5 separate regions of the Homo sapiens genome follow, and all the other regions are linked to region 3. Evidence: fine-mapped expression QTL. A gene starts in region 3. Each other region holds a variant in brackets. All regions are shown on one strand. Distances are from middle to middle.

What was found.
Region 1: its variant is fine-mapped to the expression of TIGAR in whole blood (TOPMed, PIP above 0.99).
Region 2: its variant is fine-mapped to the expression of TIGAR in coronary artery (GTEx, PIP 0.94).
Region 4: its variant is fine-mapped to the expression of TIGAR in whole blood (INTERVAL, PIP 0.91).
Region 5: its variant is fine-mapped to the expression of TIGAR in whole blood (TOPMed, PIP above 0.99). The same link has a PIP of 0.9 or more in aorta, blood mononuclear cells, esophagus mucosa, esophagus muscle, hypothalamus and nucleus accumbens.

The regions. Positions count from the first base shown.
Region 1 is chr12:4,286,662-4,290,781 of GRCh38, forward strand. It overlaps CCND2 (cyclin D2), which reads left to right. Exons shown (of 5, transcript NM_001759.4): 4 at 2,181-2,329. Among named protein-coding and RNA genes, the nearest start is that of CCND2-AS1, 13 kb to the left of the region's middle. The variant CG/C (reference allele first, on the strand shown) is at 2,522.
Region 2 is chr12:5,030,449-5,034,568 of GRCh38, forward strand. It overlaps the pseudogene LOC390282. Among named protein-coding and RNA genes, the nearest start is that of KCNA5, 11 kb to the right of the region's middle. RefSeq lists enhancers at 2,605-3,104, 3,965-4,120. The variant T/G (reference allele first, on the strand shown) is at 1,956.
Region 3 is chr12:4,318,848-4,322,967 of GRCh38, forward strand. It overlaps TIGAR (TP53 induced glycolysis regulatory phosphatase), which reads left to right and starts at 2,366. Exons shown (of 6, transcript NM_020375.3): 1 at 2,366-2,456. The coding sequence starts at 2,425. RefSeq lists an enhancer at 1,958-2,611 and a silencer at 2,077-2,456.
Region 4 is chr12:4,397,350-4,401,469 of GRCh38, forward strand. No RefSeq gene overlaps it. Among named protein-coding and RNA genes, the nearest start is that of FGF23, 20 kb to the left of the region's middle. The variant GTTTTA/G (reference allele first, on the strand shown) is at 2,484.
Region 5 is chr12:4,351,175-4,355,294 of GRCh38, forward strand. It overlaps TIGAR (TP53 induced glycolysis regulatory phosphatase), which reads left to right. Exons shown (of 6, transcript NM_020375.3): 5 at 93-203; 6 at 1,086-4,120. The coding sequence ends at 1,517. Among named protein-coding and RNA genes, the nearest start is that of FGF23, 26 kb to the right of the region's middle. The variant C/T (reference allele first, on the strand shown) is at 1,700.

The DNA of each region.
Region 1 (4,120 bases), 32 kb before region 3:
CTCCCCTGAAAATCTTCTTAGTAAAACAAAAAGGGAGGTAGAGTCTCCCTGTGCAACCGGTGCACCTGTTCCCCCTATGCCTGCTGGCTTCCAGAAGTTCATTCGTATGCCAATAATAAGAGTTGGTTTTGCTAGCAGTGGGACAGCAGAGATGGGCATGTGTGAGGTGTGCTTCCCGGTCTGAGGCCTATGGCAGAGGGAAGGGAGGGCCGGGGATACTTGCCTGCCTCTTCCCTGGCAGATGCTCCCACCCGGGCCTTTGTGGGCCCAGGGCCATGGGCCGGCTGCCCCGCTTGTGTTATGAATGTCACAGGGGGGAGCTAACGAGGTTATTGGGCAGAGAAACACTCTCCTGTGACCCATGTGGAAGAGACCTACAGCAGAGCAAGAGGCAGGGAGGCTGGCTTTGTCACACTGTTCATGGCGACAGAGAAGGCGTAGGAGGGGCGGGTGGACAGCAGGCGTGGGCGCAGCACCATTATATACGTCCCTCAAGAGGTGGAGATGGTGAGAGGGCAATGGAGAAAAAGCCAAGGAGACAGGCAGATGGCCAGGTTTGCTCTGCGTTCATGATGGGAGGGGAGGGCTGTGCTTGGCTCAGGGATCCACGGTGTCTAACAATGCTGCTAACTTGATGCTGGGGCAATGGGCTGACCATTAAAAGAGCTGCTGTAGAAAGTGTGTTTGTAATAGAGTGTGTACAGGAGGAAGGGGAAATAGGAGAGGGGCTGGTTTTTGTAGATTTAACCTGATTGTTTTTGCTGTAAGTTGAAGGGTGACCCACGGTTCCCTGTATGCTGTGTCTCCTGCCCCCACGTGCCCCTTCCATGTCTACACACAGTAAGCTCACTAGAGCAATGCTAAAACGAGAAAGAGTACGCTTTGGAAGACTTGCTGCACTCCAGGACCGTCACTAGCGTGATGGCTGCAACTATACCCACCCTAATATCTGTCAACACGAGCAGGGGCAACTTAAACTCTCAAAAGTCTCAGGGTTCTCACCCATACCATTAGGGTGACGCTCGTGTGCATCTTCTGTGGCTGATGGGTAAATTAAACAGGACGTAATGTGTAGCGTACTGCATGTGGTGGTCATTGGTAGCTGTCAGCAGCTGTAACAGGAGAAGTTGGCTGTCTTTATTTCCCCTCGATGGACCAAGCAGCTGCTGGATCATGGCCACCCAGCCCCTCTGAAGGAGTGCTCGGAGGAACACAAGGGGGCTGGTCTTCCAAGAGGAGCCCTCTAGCATGGCAGTGGACGGGGTTCAAGCCCCTCTGATTTATTATCCTCATTCTGCACTTCCCTGTAGCAAGTCACATTTTTTTCTCTTAGCAATAAAATGGGGCCTTCAGTCTCATGAGTCATAACATCGAAACCGAGTCACCCATCTGATTCGGATGCAATGATTAATCTTCAGTGCTTAGTTAGAGCCCTATGTTAGGGTTAGAATCCTCTGCCCTAATGTTCTGAGGGTTCTTGCTGTTGGGCCAGAGGTTGGGAACTGGGTGGAACTCAGCCCCCACTCGCCCACTCCCTGCATTGCTGCTTCTCTCATTTCCTTTTTTAGATCAAACCTTTTTTTTTTTTTTTTGGGTGGGGGTCATATTAATCCTCAATGCCTGTCCAGAGACTATAACAAGATCCCATCTGAATTAGCATTATGCATAGATTTTGCCCGTTTCTCCCATCTCCTTGTACTTTCCCTCCTTCTCACATCTGGAGCCCCTGGTCTGTCCTGCTTGCATGGCCCATGGGGTACCTTGTCTGCACTGGTCTCAGGCATTCTCTGCTCTGTTCCCACCATCACCTCTAGAGGAGACTATGACTCGCTCACCTTGCTCCCCCCACCAGGGTCAAGAATGTTAACTCAGACATGCTTAATATGACTGGGATCTGGGGATTGGGGACCTTGAATCCTCTGTGCATTCATTGTGTGCGCTTAGATAAGCTGTCTTCCTTCCCTGCCTCAGTCTCCTTCGTTTAATCTGGAACAGCCATGGTGATGGCAAATAAACACAGGCTCCTTGTGAAAGAACTCGAGGGAGGACATGCCTGTAGGGCACGGGGTCACTCGCGCCGCTGACCTGCTGCCGTCCTGTTTCTGAGTCTCTGCAGTCTCGGGAGCTCCAGGATCCAAATTCGTTCTGTGCCCTGACCTTCTGCCTCTCATTCCTTGCAGACTTTAAGTTTGCCATGTACCCACCGTCGATGATCGCAACTGGAAGTGTGGGAGCAGCCATCTGTGGGCTCCAGCAGGATGAGGAAGTGAGCTCGCTCACTTGTGATGCCCTGACTGAGCTGCTGGCTAAGATCACCAACACAGACGTGGTAGGTGGCCACCACCTTCTTGGCTAAGTCCAGATGTCTCTTCTCAGCTCAGGGAAGGAGACGACGGATTTGATTATGTTGTGTCAGAGGTATTTTTCTGGTTTGTTTCCTAAGATCGACATCCAAGGGAGTGCAAAGTTCAGCAGGTGACACCCCCTCTTAAGGTTCTGAAAAGCTGTGCACGGGAAAATA[CG/C]GAAGAAAACTCAGCAAGCAGATGAAGGGGGTGGGGGTGGGAGGGCTGTTTACCGATGTTCCTTTATGGCGTGGGCTTCTCAGTGGGTCTGAATTGTTGCTTCATTGCCATATTTGTACACGCTGCCAGGCTGCCTCTGCCCGGCAGCGAAGAGCTGCCGTGTCTGCTTTCACACGCTGAGGCTGTAAGGCGCACAGAGGAGAAAGGAGAGCCAGGACTCAGCTGCAGTGGATGGAGCAGACACACAAGAGGTGCCCCACTGTGAGAACGGTGTCCGTCCCTGGCAAACCTCTCGACCCCTCCCCGCTCTCTCTTCCCTTTTGTTCAATGCAGTAATGGATTACAAAGTGCTTTCAAAAGACAAAGTGCCATACAAACTCAAGAAACTATTATTAGCTACGGAGCTTCCCCATTCTGTGTGCCCTGTGGACGGCCCAGAGGCTGTTAACTTCCTGTTGCCAGAATTTGGAGCTCCTGAGAAGAAAGGTTTTGAGAGAGACCAGGGTCAAGTGAGCCTCTGAATTCAATCAGCAGGAAGCTGCAGTCCTAGCCCGTCCGAGACAGGATGGTGCCAAGAGGTCAGAGAGGCCATTCCTTCGTTTTCCACGGGCAGGACAGGGACTGAAGTAACCAGCCAGGAGCGGGGTGGGCAGTGGCTGAGCTGGGGCTAGAACCCCCAGGCTCCGACTGCCCCCTGGAAACTTCCCACTCCACCCTTGTTGCCGCTCCTGGGATCTTTTGGTTTGAAAAAAAACCCTGGGGTTTAAAGTCAACCTGAGAGAGGGGTGTTGGCCCTGAGCCCTCATGCATCACCATGGAGAGGCTGAAGAATGCTGGGCACTTCACGATGACACCCTCTGGATGGTCCGGGGGGATTCAGATGCCCTCTGCGGGCTTTTATTGAGTTAAGGGATCATGTGGTTTATAGGCCTATGGCTGAGGCCTGCACGAGGGATACGGGACAGGTTAAACCTCAGAGAGCCCACGGCTGCAGCTCGCCGGCCTCCTCGCCCGCCCACCTGGATTTTCCCTGGCATTTGTTCCCAGCTCAGAGAAATGGCGCAGGGAGATGCTGACGGAGCAAATCCGGGGTCCTCCTCTGAGATAGTTCGTAGATATGGTTTTAAAATGCGGGCTCCAAACATACGCTTTTTAAACGAGGACTCCAGAACACAGACTGAAAACCTCCCTCCAGTGCAGCATGAAGAATGCTTTTCTAATCCTCCAGAGGAAAATCGTGGACGGGACTTAACGTTTATAGAAATGGTACGCTTTCCTCCTTTTCTGAATGTCTCCAATTAAGGCTGCCTTACAAATAGGACTCTCAGCCAGTTTAAGACAAGCCCTTCCTCAATGCCTGGAGACAAAAATGTCAGTGACAGGAGTTGGAAGCGGCCACCCCCCTCCTCCTGCCCCCAGGCATTGTAACCTTTTCCCCCGATGTTGATAGACCTGCTCTGATGGGCTGACCACCCTACCGGCTCCAGCCTTTTCCCACCTCCCTTTGTCCCCCGTTACTGATCTCACATGGACAGTGGTGGAAATTTCCCTCCTGGGAGTTGCTGCTGAGTCTCTTGGCTTTTCGAGACCGCAGGCAA
Region 2 (4,120 bases), 710 kb after region 3:
GCTCACTTTCCCCCTTACCTTGTAAAAGTGTCTGTTATCTGCTCCAGAGGTGAAGCAGCACATTTAAAGGCAAGAAGTTTTGTGCCCCTTCCCCAAGCTCACTTCGGAATAAATTCACTATTTTTGTACCAAGTCTTACTCTTGTTCATTGGATTCTGCATGTGGCAAGAAACTGACCTGTGTTTTGGTTACAACATAGTGGAGGACGAAGAACCTTATCAGAAGTGAAGGGTGATCAGGTATCAAGAATGGGAGATTATTTGCTAAAACTAGACTTAGGAGTACACAGATGGACCTAGGAGAAGGTTCGAAGCCTGATTAAAGTTTGGCCAAGCAGAGACTGTTTGTCAGGGGAGGCCAATAATAGTCTTCACATCTATAGCAACAGTACATTGATAGTACCGAGTGGTAGCTATCTTTGAACTACAGCTCTATCAAGTTTCAGTTGACCTTAATATCTAATGACTCTTATTAGTCATTGAACAAAATGCACTCCATAAATGAAGAGACTTGTCAAGAATTAATATATTGACAGAGCTAGGGTTGGGACCTCGGCTTCTTGACTCCCTATCTGGGGCTCTGTGTCCTAATGGACTGGGTCAAGACGAAAATAATTTCTTCTTATAGGGCAGTTCGCACACCCTGGAACTGAATCCTATCTTGTAATGTAACTTATCCTACTAAAAAAATTGATACTAGGCTTCTATATTCTGCTATCTACCGCCATCCTGTGTCTTTGCCTCCCCTCTTTCTTTTACAAATATAGTGCTTCTGTGGCAATCAAAGTTACCATTCAGTTCTCTGGTTGCAAAATATCAAGATGGGATCAGGATGAGAAGAGGGGAAAAGGGAGAAGATGCAGAGGAAAGAAAGGTAAAAATAGACTACTTTTAAAAGAAGAGGAAAAAAACGGTATGTATGCGTATTCAGATTCTCAAAGAGCCAAAAACGAAACACAGGTGCGTCTTTCAGAGCTCCAGAATCAGACCTGAAGACAGCAGACTTCTAAAGACTGTCCAGCGGTCTCCATAATTGCCTACAGTCATGTTTCTGTAACTCATTCCTCATTACTGGTACCTCCTGGTCCTTCTGCTCCACCATTTCCTGGTTTCTACAACTGGCCCCAAGGTCACTGATGATGTTTATGACTTTCTCCTCCACTCTATTGTGAATTCGGATGCCTTTTAGCCCTGCCTCAGATAGCAAGGATTCTTAGCTTAGTGTAGAAACACATTTCCTACATGTTCCCTAAAAAAAAATCACTGTTACACTTCAATTAGACACCTAAATGTCTATGACTAGTACCTCAGTATACACTATACAGCCTCTTTCTTTGAAGAGCCTTTGCAGGGACTGAATGTGGCACAAAATAGATGAAACAGTTATAAAAAAAAGTTATGTTTTTATATTAGAGTTGAGAACCTTGCAGCTTGTGAATATGTGAACTCACTGTAAGGGGCTCGTCTAGGTTTTTCAACAATTGCTGTGGCGGCTTTGTAATGTGTCAAGTGGGCCAGGCTGAAATATGTTTCCCAGAATTCTTTTCCCTGCAAGTTCCCAGTTAGAGTGGGGAATAAGAGACATTTTTGCTTGAAATTTGAAGGACAAAAGTGAAGTGGCAGCCGTGTTACTTTTCACTGTCAGAAGGTGGGGCAGGTGCTTCTGCAGCTCAGGCACATTGTCACTGATCTGTGACTCATGCCCTTGGGGTGGCGGCAGGTGGGCCTGCACATGTTCTGCTTTTCTCTGAATCCTTCACCAGCTTCTCTGATTCCTGGACCAGGTATGTGTTTTAGCTCCATGACAGAGGGAGCCACCTTCCCCTTTAGGACAAGCACGTCATCAGGGTTGGAGGCAGTGAGGACAGAGATATGGGCTCCATTCTGCCCTGAGGGGCCCAGCTTGTCTTTGCCTTCTCCCACATTACATCCACTTTCCCTTCTTTTTTTTTTTAA[T/G]TTACAAAAAGTAGGCCATGTTTATTAGAGTCACACACAGTTGACTGTCTCAGTGTGACTCAAGACCACGAAAAACCCATTTCTCCTTCACTTCTGAGTCCTGGGGTTAAGACCTAGACCAGCAGGCGTACTGCTTGGGCTCCATTCACAGGTTTACAAGTTTTTCACTGAGGGCAATCTGTGACTGTGTGAGGTTGGCCAGGTAGGTCACCATCAACAGGTCGTTGATGTTACCGTTGAGCATGATCTCGAAGTCATCGGGAACTATTTTGGGTACTTGGTTAACCAGGTTCACCAGGAAGCGGCCAACCGACACCTTTCCAGAGAGTACATCCTCTGCATATTGCAACACTCTGCTCAAGGCATCCCGGATGCGAGCGGATGCCCCTCCTACTTGCTGCAAGTCACCTGAGAGTCCAATCACTCTGTTGGGGCTAAAGCAGGTCTTCACGATCAGGTCAACTCCAATGCGTTCAGTGTCACAGTATACATATTTCACTGTCAGAGGTGTGAACATCACTGCCATGGTCCTCCCAGGCTTTCTTTCTCCACAAGATGGCCACACCGGCGGTACCAGCAAGTGCTCCTCCAGCCACGCCAGCCCCAGCCCCGGCAGCGGTCCCAGCCTCAGTTCCAGCACCAATGCCAGCACCGGCTGCGGCTCTGGTTCCCACTTTCCCTTCTTGATGCATTCCCTGGGGCCCTGGAGTTCCAGCATCTGACAGAAAGACAGTAGCCCTATAGAGACTCTCAACCAGCTCCCGGGATTGCATAGGGTCGAGTCCCTGTAATTGATTATTTACTACACATACCTCTTAGAGGTTCTGCGTTTCTGCTTGCACCCTGACCAATACAGCCTCCTTGCAATGTACACAAGCTTCACAGACTCACTGAAAACCTGGAGTAAGAAATGGGGACAAGGCCACTGCAGTTCAGCCCAGGCAACAAGAGTGAGACCTCATCTCTTAAGAAAAAAAAAAATGACCCAGACGTGGTGGCTCATGCCTGTAATCCCAGCATTTTGGAGGCCGAGGCGGGCTGATCACAAGGTCAGGAGATTGAGACCATCTTGGCTAACACGGTGAAACCGCGTCTGTACTAAAAATACAAAAAATTAGCTGGGTGTCGTGGCACACGCCTGTAGTCCCAGCTACTCGGGAAGCTGAGGCAAGAGAATCGCTTGAACCAGGGAGGGCAAGGTTGCAGTGAGCCAAGATCGCACCACCGCACTCCAGCCTGGGTGACTACTCCATCTCAAGAAAAAAAAAAAAAAAAAGGAAAGATGTCCTGAGGCAGTATGTGTACCTGCATGAAAACTGGAGTGGAGAGAGTAGCTGACAAAGGTTACATGGTCTTCCTGTGTTTTCCTACTCGGTAGATGGACAATGATAAGAATGATGGCAACGGAGCAAACCCTGACTGGGGCTTGTGGGGTCCCAGTTACTTTTCATGTATCATCAATCTGGGTGATAACCTGGCGGGCTGGATGCCATCTTCTCCTCTTTCAAATGAGAGACATGAGGCTCAGAAAAGTTATAGGACTTGCTCTAGGTAACACAGAGCATAAATAGTGTCATGGGATCCAAACCCAGATTTTTCTACTCCAAAGCTTGTGATCTTTCCCTCTGCCTCGCTGCATAGCCCCTACAGCTTCCTAACTCACAGGAAATTCCTGTGTCCTTTGGTTGGCTCTATTTATAGTCTTTCTAAAGAGGAATGTGTTGGGCCCTCTTCCTGGCATGAAATCTATCTTTAAAATTTCATTTATTAATAAACACATAGGGCCTGTTTTGTGCCAGACACTGGTCTGAGCAGTTTACAAATATTAACTAATTTAATCTTTACAGCAACTCTGTTATATTACTACTATTAATATAGTAGTAATAGGATTAGTGCCATTTTACAGAGAAGGAAGTGAAGGGACAGGGAAGCTAAGTGTTTTGCCCCAGGTCACACAGCCAGTAAGTTTTGCAGAGTCAGAATTCACACCCATCACCATGTATTGCTGCCCTTTCCTTCAGAGATTCGGACTTCTCATCCTAGCCTGTCTCCTCTTTCCTGTGAAAGCTGAGATGATGGGCTCAGGGGCTCAGAGTTCCCCCAAAGGAAGGCCCTGGGTGAGCCTGAATCTTTACAAATGTCCATAACGAGGTGAAAACTGGCAT
Region 3 (4,120 bases):
CTCTCTCGGCCATATTTCTTTTTTTTTTTTTTTGAGATGGGGTCTTGCTCTGTCACCCAGGCTGGAGTGCAGTGTTGGAATCTCGGCTCACTGCAACCTCTGCCTCCCGGGTTCAAACGATTCTCCTGCCTCAGCCTCCCTAGTAGCTGCGACTACAGGCACGTGCCACCATGCCCGGCTAATTTTTTGTATTTTTAGTAGAGATGGGGTTTCACCGTGTTAGCCAAAATGGTCTCTATCTCCTGACCTGCAGATTCTCCTGACCTGCCTTGGCCTCCCAAAGTGCTGGGATTACAGGCGTGAGCCACCATGCCCGGCCATATTTCTCATCTCTAAAGTGAAGATAATGTAGCCTATCCTGTCTACCTTAGAATTGTTCAGAAGGCCAAATGTGATATTACATGTAAGACTGTTTTGAAATGTGTGCCTATGAATCTAAGTATCTCATTCATCTCTTCTCTAAACACATCTTTTCATATATAAGTGGGGATTCAAGGAAATAAATGCATTATGAAATACAAGAATTTAGGTAACAGTGCATGGAAGACAATGTCACCTAGCTAACATTATTGTTACTTGTGTCACATTGCTAGGTACTGCTATCCCAGTTTACCTGTCACAAAACCCAGGGTTAGAGAAGCTCATGTTATAAATAAACTTTCAGTGCCACAAAAGAAATAGCACTCGAATATAAAATTTTCTTTTTAATTCTCAGCAAGGCAAGGTACTTCTATAGAAGGGTGCGTCCTTACAGATGGAGCAATGGTGAGCGCACACTTGGACAAGGGAGGGGAAGGGGTTCTTATCCCTGACGCACGTGGCCCCTGCTGCTGTGTAGTGCCCCACCGCACAGGCTAAACTAATTCCGATTGGCTAATCTAAAGAGAGTGATGGGGGTGAGTGGTTTGGCGGGAAAAACAGTTATGACAGAGCAGGTAATCTGAGTCAGGGTGGCGTAGGTAATGGGAAGGAGTCAGGGTGGAGTAGGTAATGGGAAGGAGTCAGGGTGGAGTAGGTAATGGGAAGGAGTCAGAGTGCAGCAGGTAATCGAAAAAGGTTGTGGCCGGGCGCGGTGGCTCACGCCTGTAATCCCACCACTTTGGGAGGTCGAGGCGGGCGGATCACGAGGTCAGGAGATCGAGACCATCCTGGCTAACACGGTGAAACCCTGTCTCTACTAAAAATACAAAAAATTAGCCGGGCGTGGTGGCAGGCGCCTGTAGTCCCAGCTACTCGGGAGGCTGAGCCAGAATGGCGTGAACCCGGGAGGCGGAGCTTGCAGTGAGCCGAGATCACACCACTGCACTCCAGCCTGGGTGACAGAGCCAGACTCCATCTCAAAAAAATAAATAAATAAATAAAAAAGAGAAGGTTGCTTTAGGAGGAAGTTAAGTTTAAAAGTAAAAAGCAAAGAATTGAACATACTGACATATTGATTCTTTGAAAAGAAATTTAGAACTCATATCTAACATGAAGCAACTCCCTCAACGTTCTGAAGGCTATTAAAGAGAAATTATTCATCTGAGGCTTGTTAAAAACGGCAAGACTTTACTCAAGACTACTGCAATAGGTGAGAGAGACTGAATTCGACTCTAGAATACAACCGGGACCAGTGGAGATTTATAGCCAGGGGGCGGGATGGAAGGGATGAAAGAGAAGATGGGAAATTACCAGAACGTGGTAAGCTATCTGGGGGAGGGGGAGGAGGAACTTTACTAGATATCAAGGGCCTTAGAAGAGAGCATCAACAGTGAGGTCTCTCTTGATAAACAGGCTTAGCAGGATTCTTTGGTAAAACCAGGCTCAGCAGGCCGAGGATGCCGTCTAGTATAGAAAAGGCCTCAAAGGAGCCCGACTAAAGTTTGGTCACGGAGGGCGTCTGTCCCGGCGGAGTTGGGGTGGGTGGGTCTAAGTCTACAGACCTGGCCGACGCTACGTCCCTAAGGTTAGGGACTAACAGACCTCATAGAACACAGTCTGTTGGTCGCTGTACACCCGTGAGGGGTTCATCACAGTGGCCAGCTATAAGACGAACGGTTGCATTCCAGCCTCAATCGCAACAACCACAAATCAGTGCGCCGGCTTCCTTATCTGCCCCGAACGCAGGCTGCCGGCTATCGAGGGAAGGAATCCTACCGCGGACTCCGCGGGCGGGGCCTCCCGCACCTGCCGCGCGCCAATCACAGGCCGGCGCGCAGGGGCGCAAGCGCCGCAGCCCTGGGCGGGGCCCCCGTGGCTCCCTCGTCTCCCCCGCCCCGTCGGCCTCGCCCGGCCCTGAGTGGCCTTCGGGGATGACGTGCGAGGCCGCCTCGGCCTATGGCGGCGGAGCCGGCCGGCTGCTTGGCGGAAGTGGTGTGGGGGAGGTAGCCCGCAGTGCAGGGGCAGCGCGGCGCGGGGCCACCGACGGGACGCGGCTCCGGGAACATGGCTCGCTTCGCTCTGACTGTTGTCCGGCAGTGAGTATGGCTGTGGCAGGATGTCTTTCTCTCTCTCTTCCTTGAGTGTGTTGGAGCGGGTGAAGGGAAAACGGGTCCACCACCCTCTCCCCTCCCTGCTCGCTCCAGCCCGGGAGGGCTGGCTTGGAAGCGCTTTTTCCGGGGCGCTTGCCCTGGGGCCGTCCCGTGTCGCCCCTCCTCTCACCCCAGCAGCCCCGAGGGACGACGGCAGGTCTTAGATAGCTTCGTTCCGTGTTTCAGATAAAGTGAGGCCCGGAGGAGCAAGGGATCGGGGTTCGTAGGCACTTGGTGGCTGCACCAAAAACGGTGCCAGACATGTCCACAGACTTGTCTGGGTACCGATTTTGCTCCCCAGCAGATTGCAAAGAGTTTGCAGAATTGCTCGTCCATGGCTGATGTTTTTGATGCCGGCTGCCTTCCGCTATCCTCTCAGTTTCTGAGGTTCCCCCTCGTTTCCCCAGGCAGTCAGCCCCCCAGGCACATATATGAGACTTCTTTCTTTTCCCCAGAGGTTACAGTTCTGGGAGAGAAAAGAGGATCACAGCTCTGATCTCAGCAGACCGTATCATCCCAAATAAATGTTTTTATTATCATAACGTTACACGGAGCTGCATGCTGATAGGTCTTTATGTATTTGCCAAGTGTTAACGGGAGGTGAAAATCAGGGTAGTTAAGAGCACAGATTTTTATTTTTATTTTTTTTTTTTTGTGAGATGGAGCCTCGCTCTGTCACCCAGGCTGGAGTGCAGTGGCGCTATCTCTGCTCACTGCAACCTCCCGCCTCCGGGGTTCAAGCGATTCTCCTGCTTCAGCCTCCCGAGTAGCTGGGATTACAGGCATGCGCCACCACGCCCGGCTAATTTTTGTATTTTTAGTAGAGACAGGGTTTCGCCATGTTGGTCAGGCAGGTCTGGAACTCCTGACCTTAAGTGATCCGACTACCTCGGCCTCGCAAAGTGTTGGGATTACAGGCATGAGCCACCGCGCCCTGCTAAGAGCACAGATTTTTCAGGCAAGGTAGACCTCGGTTGGAGTCTGTTCTCCAGCTAAGAGCCAGGTAGCCTGGACTTAAGTTTCCTGATATGCAAATGATAGTGCGTATCTCACTACTTTAATGCGAGAATTAAATGGGGGACAGGTAAAGTGTATGATGCAACAGGGAAAGAAATATATCTGAGAAATAACTTCTATAAAGAAAGCTCCAATAAAAGTGCAGTTGATTCCCAAATACGAACGTATAGTTCAGCACACCAGCATTTTGAGTAGGTAATGTGTGCCAGTAGACTGGATCATACAGATAAATAACATACCATTTCTGCATTCATGGAGCTCACAAAGGACATTAATATGATTTAACTTTGTCAATTGACTTTAACAGCTATCTTTTCTGGCCTGTCCTTCCTTTATAAGAAAGATAATCTTAAGAATCCTCTAAAATTGTCTGTTTAGGATTAGCAGGATTTTAATGGCTACCTTAGAAATCTAGTTCCTCACTATCTCTTCTCCCACCCCTCTCGGTTGTATAGAATGCCTTGGGAGAATTCTTAACTTACTAAAGGTCACACAGCTAATCGGTAGCAGAACAGGAACTAGAGGCCTGATCACCCTTTCTTCCAATGTTAGTGCACTTTCTAGACGCCTGACCCAGCCAGCCCAGTGTCATA
Region 4 (4,120 bases), 79 kb after region 3:
TTCCAAGATAATTAGTTAAAAAACTCAAAAATGCTGTAATCATCAGACCACCAAAAGAAATTTTTTGGAGAAGTATTGCTTCATTTATTTACTTCCATTTTTCCAAAATTATTTGGGTCGGTTTCGGGAGTGTTTATAGGATAATTCATGACTGTCTTTTCAATCAGGGAAATGGAAAACTAGGAACTACATTTTGAGTTTAAAAATGATTTCCTCCTTAAAATGTCCATGTAACTTTTTTTTTTTGAGACAAGTTTTTACTGTTGCTCAGGATGGTGCTATCATGGCTCACTACAGCTTCCATCTCCCTCCCCAGGCTCAGATTGTCCTCCTACCTCAGCCTCCCGAGCAGCTGGGACCACAGGTGTGCACCACCACAGCCAGCAAATTTTTGTATTTTTAGTAGAGACGGGGTTTTGCCATGTTGGCCAGGTTGTCTAGAATTCCTGGGCTCAAGTGATCCACCTGCCTTGACCTCCCAAAGTGCTGGGATTACAGGCATGAGCCACCATGCCTGGCCCATGTACCTTATAGCCTGACGGGTTTGGCAAAACCAGAGGATTCGACTTAGAAAATAAAAAGCAGTTGCCGTGTGCTGCTGTTTGTTGTCTTTGTTCTGTGATACAATTTCAATATATATATTCACTTAATATATATTTAGGCTGGGCACAGTGGCTCACACCTATAATCCCAGCACTTTGGGAGGCCAAGGAAGGTGGATCACTTGAGGCCAGGAGTTTGAGACCAGCCTGGCCAACATGGTGAAACCCCATCTCTACTAAAAATACAACAATTAGCTGGTTGTGGTGGCTTACGCCTGTAGTTCCGATTACTCGAGAGGCCGAGGCATGAGAATTGCTTAAATCCAGGAGGTGAAGGTTGCAGTGAGCCAAGATCGCACCACTGCACTCCAGCCCGGGTGACAAAGAGAAACTCTGACCCCCCCGCCCCCAAAAAAGAAAGCAGTTGCTGTGTGCTGCTGTAGTCTCTGCTCTGTGATACAACTTCAGCATATATATTCATTTAGTATATATGTATTGGGTAGAGTTGCCTTGTGATACTTTAGCAATGAAAAGAAAAAGACAGATGTGGCCTCCGCTCTCAAAGTGATTGATGTGTAGAAAGGAAGAAAGACAATTCTATAAGTAACATTAAACTGTGATTAATGTTATAATAGGGGTAGAATTCAGCCCCATAAGAAGGTGTGGCAATGGGTCCTATCCAGACAGGGGAATCGGTGAAGAATCAGGAAGAAATGATGACATCTAAGCTGACATCTGAAAGATGAACAACTCTGAAAAATATAGAAAAGTAGAGGGGTAAAAAAATCCATAATCTTTCTGAACATTAATGATTATTTGATAACAGCTTAGTTTATTTTCTTCTGATCTTTATTTATTAAATAATATTTTTTGTGAAAATAATACTCATAATACCTTAAGAAAAAAGAGTAAAAAGAACAAAGTAAAAAAAAAACTCACTTGGCTGGGCGCGGTGGCTCACGCCTGTAATCCCAGCACTTTGAGAAGCCGAGGTGGGTGGATCACGAGGTCAGGAGATGTAGACCATTCTGGCTAATACGGTGAAACCCCTTCTCTACTAAAAATACAAAAAATTAGCCAGGCGTGGTGGCACACGCCTGTAGTCCCAGCTACCCAGGAGACTGAAGCAGGGGAATCCCTTGAACCTGGGAGGTGGAGGTTGCAGTGAGCCGAGATCGCACCACTGCACTCCAGCCTGAATGACAGAGGGAGACTCCATCTCAAAAAAAAAAAAAAAAAAAACCACTCAGTGCCTTTGTTAGTCCGTTTTGTTCTCTTATAACAGAATACCCGAGACTGGTTAATTTATAAAAAACAGGTATTTATTTCTTATAATTCTGGAGTTTGGTAAGTCCAAGGTTGAGGAGCCTGCATCTGGTGAGGGTTGTTTTGCTGTGTTATTCCATGGTAGAAGGCAGAAAGGCAAGAGGGCAAGAGAGCATGGGGCAGGGGGAGGGAGAGAGAAAAAGAGAGGGAAAGAGAGAGAGAGAGGAGGAAGGGAGGAAGAAGAAAGGAAGGGAAGACAGGAAGGATGGAGGGAGGGAGAGATTGAACTCACACCTCAAGCTTTTTTATAATTGGCATTAACCCATTTATGAGAATGGAGCCCTCCTAGTACTGTTGCACTGGGGATTAAGTTTCCAGCCTATGCTTTCTGGGGAACACATTCAAACCATAGTACCACCCATAAATATCCACCCTTGAATGAACATTATTTCATATATATATATGTTTATGGATAGAATATTAGGTAAAAATGTTAACAGACACACTTATAAAAATTGGATCATACTATTTGTGCTATTTTTTAAAACAAATGTTTAATTAAATGTTACTTGGATTTAACAGAAGAAAAAGAAATGGAAATCAAACTGAAGGAACTGGTGAAATTTAGTTAAATTTGTCTTTTCTATTAAATGTGTCCTTTGCACAAGAGGTATT[GTTTTA/G]ATAAAATCCTTCTACATTTAAGAAAACAGGTATGAAAATATTGTGAGAACCATTAAGAGATTAGAATAATTGGCTATATATTTTTGGAAACTTATTTAGACAGTTTAAATTGGGTAAGCGCTATGAAAAATAAGATAATAAGCATTTCTCACATGTCCTCTCTCCTCACAACTCCCTAATTTTGTTAATTATATTGTTAATTTTACACTGTCAAAAGTTACCAGAAAATTGTCAAAGTTTATGTTGTTGAAATTTGTTCTGTAATCATAATTTCCACAATTGTTCAGTCTTCCTTCAGCATCTAATAGTTTCAGTTCTTACCACCAGTACTTTTTTGACTGTTTCTCCTTTCTTGAATTTTTATTTGGATTTATAGTTTAATATATAAAATCTTATAATCAAGTAGGTATTTTTCCTCCAAGTGTGATTCCTGGGTGCTATCTTTTTAGAGAAAGAACTTAGAAATTATTTTTTCTTTTTGCCTTTGTGTTAAATGACTTCTTGATGGTTATAATTTTGGGTACCATTTTCTTTTCCTCGAAACTTTGTAAATATCACTACATTGTTTTCTGACATTAAATATTGCTTTTGGAAGTCTGAGGTCGGCTTGGTTTTGCTCCTTGTACATTAATTGCTTTTGTGCGTAGCTTTTGTTCTTTTGTTTGTTTTTTAGGAAGGCCTTACTAAGTGCCAGGCACTGTTCTCTTTTTTTTTTTAATACTTGAGTTATAGTAATTAATTTAACATTTTATATCATCTTCAAGATGCTTGAGGAATTCTTGAAGTTCAGTACATTAACTGGATATATCTTGGTGTTGAAGCTTCCATGTTAGTTTTTCGTGAAACCAGTATGTGTAGATTTGATTCTTTCTGTATTTCCAGGAAAATTCTTGTATTATATACTTTTAATGTTTCTAGTCCATGTCTTGGCTTCTTTACCTCAGGGACGTGAAATACCTTATGTTGTGTGGTCTCTCACCATCCTTTAGATTTATTGTTTTTTTCTCTAATTGCTTTTAGTTCTTGTCTTTGTCTTCTGCATCCACTGGCACTAGCTAAAGCCTTTCTACTGGCAAATACATTCACATGAAGTGTATTGTTCTGCTTCTTCTTTATTTATTGCTTTGCCTCCTTATTTCTTTCCTTAGCACTATAATTTTCCTCTCCTCCTCTCTCCCCCGCTCCGCCCCTCTATGGTTCTCTCTCTGCCTCTCTGTCTCTGTCTTTCTCTCTTTTGTTCTTATTCTATTGTTTTATCATCTTGTCTTTGAGTTTTCATTTTAATCAAATTCATGTTCCTTTAAAGATTTATTTTCTATTGTAAAACACTTGTGAAGAATTTCCGTCTTTTCCTTGGATTATGTCTTCTTCCAGAATGGGTTCTTTGTTTTTTGCATGCTGTGATTCCTTCTTTGCTTTTACTTTGCTTTTTCTCTTCCTCTCTCACTCCCTCTATTCCTTCCTTCCTTCCTTCCCTCCTTTCCCTTCTTTCCCTTCCTTCCTTCCCTTCTTTCCCTTCCTTCCTTCTTTCTTTCCTCTGTAGTATTTTTGCATACTTTCCATGCTATTTCTTTGTATCTTATTCGTGCCTGGGCAGCTCCATGCCCACCTTCCGTTTGCTCTGGGTTTAG
Region 5 (4,120 bases), 32 kb after region 3:
TGGGATGAATGTTCTAAATTTGCCATAAACATAAACTTAATTGTTATATTGCAATTTCATTTGAGAAACTGTTATCTATTGGACTGTTTCAGAAATACGGGGTTGTAGAAGGCAAAGCGCTAAGTGAGCTGAGGGCCATGGCCAAAGCAGCCAGGGAAGAGTGCCCTGTGTTTACACCGCCCGGAGGAGAGACGCTGGACCAGGTATGTGGCGCTGCCGATGTCAGAATGGTTGAATTAAGACTCAAAATTAGATGTTTTGGAATTTTAGCTAAGCAGTTTGAAAGTTGCTTGGTTCATTCTCTTTTCCATTTTAAATTATCTATTTACTTAGCAAATTATTCTTTTCTATTTAAAATCTTATTTACTGTTCAGTTGCCTTTGTCATTATTGATAATGGACTTAAGGAAAGGTGTTATTAGATGGTACTTCTAAAAAAGACCTTTGAATATGAAGCAGTGGCTTAGTGGTGGGAGTGGAGTTCAAAGAGGGTGATCGGCAAGTCACTCGAGGTGAAATAACTCAAAACATGAAGTCTTCAAGCCTCTGCTGCCTCCTCAGCTCTGTTCATGGTGGCATCCCTGTGCTTGCATTTCTTTGGAGTGTTCTGCTTCGAATTGCATATTGGTGATTCCCCCTAACCCACCACCACCTCCTTAATCTTTATCTTAATTTTCTTGAAAATACTTTCCATTACTTTAGTAAGGGAAGGATTTGTTGCTGCTGTTGTTCCAGTGGCACTGAAGTGCCAGAGACAGCTTCCTGGTTAGCACTGTTTTATGAGTTTCTGTTGGCTTGTAGATTTCCCTAACTAGACCGTGAGTGCTTTGAACTCAGGAATTGGGAATTGGATCTTCTTCATCTTGGTCTCCATGGTGCTTTTGTAATTCCAGAAATGTGGTGGATACTTATATATGTCCATGAAACTACTGATTGAACGAATAGAAATGTAGATTGATATTCTTCTGCTTGTGTAGTACTTGGCATTCAATATTAGAAAAAAATCCAGTCAGTTATGTTCTATGTTAACGTTTTAAGGAAGTCATTAATGTCACTTTATTTTGACTTTTATTTCTTTTCTTGTAGGTGAAAATGCGTGGAATAGACTTTTTTGAATTTCTTTGTCAACTAATCCTGAAAGAAGCGGATCAAAAAGAACAGTTTTCCCAAGGATCTCCAAGCAACTGTCTGGAAACTTCTTTGGCAGAGATATTTCCTTTAGGAAAAAATCACAGCTCTAAAGTTAATTCAGACAGCGGTATTCCAGGATTAGCAGCCAGTGTCTTAGTTGTGAGTCACGGTGCTTACATGAGAAGTCTGTTTGATTATTTTCTGACTGACCTTAAGTGTTCCTTACCAGCCACTCTGAGCAGATCTGAACTTATGTCAGTCACTCCCAATACAGGGATGAGTCTCTTTATCATAAACTTTGAGGAAGGAAGAGAAGTTAAACCAACGGTTCAGTGTATTTGTATGAACCTACAGGATCATCTAAATGGACTGACTGAAACTCGCTAAGGTTAAATCTGCATCAAAATCTAACCATTTTGAGCCTCTGAAGGGAGTGCCATTGGCTTTATTTACTTCTCTCCTCTGCTAGTTCTGATTTGGAAACAGTTAAAAGCCAATTTTTAGCTCCAGTGGAACCATAGCCACATAAAACTTTAATGGACAACCATATAGAATTAACTTATTTTGTC[C/T]AAGTACAGTTGGCATTTTCCAGAATAATTTTACCACCCTGCTAGATGTCATCTCTGGATTGCACATGGATGATGAAGGAACTCAGCATTGAAAGTTGGGGGATTAGTAACCTTGTTACAACGGTTTCTTTTTCATTTTAGCCTATTTTAATGGCTATTGGTAAGATACTGTATGTTTTTAGTATCTCATCCAGTGCTTAGAAGAAAGAATGGTTTATAATTCCCAGTACATGTTTATATTGACTGTGTTATATTTTTAAATCCTTTAAATAAAAAATCCTTATAAGTTTATGTAAAGCAAAATAACACTAACATGTTTTACGTATAAATCAACTATTGGAATTTTTTATTCTAGAGGGCTTGAAATGTGGATGAATACAGATTATGATTGCAGAATGGTCTGGGGGAAGAAGTTAAAACATTTGATTTAAATACAGTAAAGAAAGAATCTTGGAGCAGAAGATAGAAGAACAGCCTTTTCTAAATAATGCCTTGCCAAAGTCAAGTCAATGGAAACCAGGAAAGCCAAAAAAATGAAGAATATCCACTTGCTTCTTATCTAACCTGTAGGCTGAAGAATTTCCAGTTTGAGGAAGGCTCTAAAGAAAGTAAACAGTTAACAGAACACCACACAGTAATCAGAATAAAAGAGGGGCCTTCTTTGTAAAGAATGGTGCTCTGGGCCGGGCCCAGTGGCTCACACCTGTAATCCCAGCACTTTGGGAGGCTGAGGCGGGCGGATCACAAGGTCAGGAATTCTAGACCAGCCTGGCCAACAATGGTGAAACCCTGTCTCTACTACAAATACAAAAAAGCCAGGCGTGGTAGCAGGCGCCTGTAATCCCAGCTACTTGGGAGGTTGAGGCAGGAGAATCGCTTGAACCCGGGAGGTGGAGGTTGCAGTGAGCCGAGATCGCACCACTTCACTCCAGCCTAGGTGACAGAGGGGATGACAGAGGGTGCTCTGCGGGCAGGGAAGGCGGGGTGGTTGGGGGGGAGAGAATGTTGCTCTGATAACCACAGCTGTGGTTATTTTGTGGCAGGTACAGGTGAGGTTGCCTCTTCTTTCCACCAGATGGCACTGGAGAAAAGGGATTTTGATTAACTTAATTTTATACACAAGATTGGTCTTTCAGAAATCTTTATCTAAATGAAGAAACTGTTCTACATGTAGTTCGCTTTTAAGTCACCATGTTGCTAAATGCTGTGAGTCTCAACTTTAAAGAGGGTTAATACTAAAGTTGTCAGTTAAGGCTATAGTCACATATAGTCAAAATTTACTTTGACATCATTTTAAATCATATGTAAAATTCAGTATTATATTGTTCTTAGTGTGTCTAGCACTACCAGTTTTCTACCAGTATTGAAACAGGGCACGTGTTTGAGCATCAGAGGAAGTATACTGTAAATAAAAATTTGAAAAATAAGCAAAAAGGACAGACAATAATTATCTCCATTCCCACCATACTGAAGTCATCTTTCCACTTTTTTTTTTAAAGAAACAAAACATAAAGATAAAAGTAGAGTTCTCTTTAACCAGCTCTCACAGTCCTGTTCCCTCCAGAGGCAGCCACTGCAGTGAGTCTGTGTATATGTTCACCTGTTCATCTGCTTGCAATGTTCATCTGTTCCTTATATTTTCACCTAGTGTCTGGAAGGAGATGGTACTGTTTTGGTGCTTTAAAAATAAATATCAAGCCATCTGTGTTCTTTATTTTTACTTATGTCTTGGAGGCATCTCTGTGTTGATATATATAGATCTAGTTAATTATAACCACTCTATTCTATTAAATATAGCACATTTTTGTTTATTAGTGGGCATTTAGGTATATTCAGTTTTTATTTTCTTTGCTTTTTTTCTTTTTTTTTTTTTTTGGAGACAGAGTCTCTCTCTGTTGCCCAGGCTGGGGTGCAATGGCGTGATCTTGGCTCACTGCAACCTCCACCTCTCGGGTTCAAGCAATTCTTGTGCCTCAGCCTCCTGAGTAGCTGGGACTACAGGCATGCACCACCACGCCTGGCCTTTTTTTTTTTTTTAGTAGAGACGGGGTTTCGCCATGTTGGCCAGGCTGGTCTTGAACTTCTGACCTCAGGTGATCCACCTGCCTTGGCCTTCCAAAGTGCTGGGATTGCAGGCATAAGCCACCGTGCCTGGCCTATGATGCATTTTTTTAATATGTGTTCTTAATTTTTAAGACAAACCAATATACCTTATCCTTTATGGGGTTTTTTTGGTGTGTATCTTTAAGAAGACTTCTCTACCATGAGGTCATACAGTAATGTCTTCTTACAGTTTTTGAGAACTTCTGAATGTCAAATCTTGAAATTGAAATTTGCTTTTTATAGTATAAGGTAAGAATTTAATTTTTTTTTTCATGTGGTTGAAACAGTTATCCCAACACCATTGTAAAGGCTGTTCTT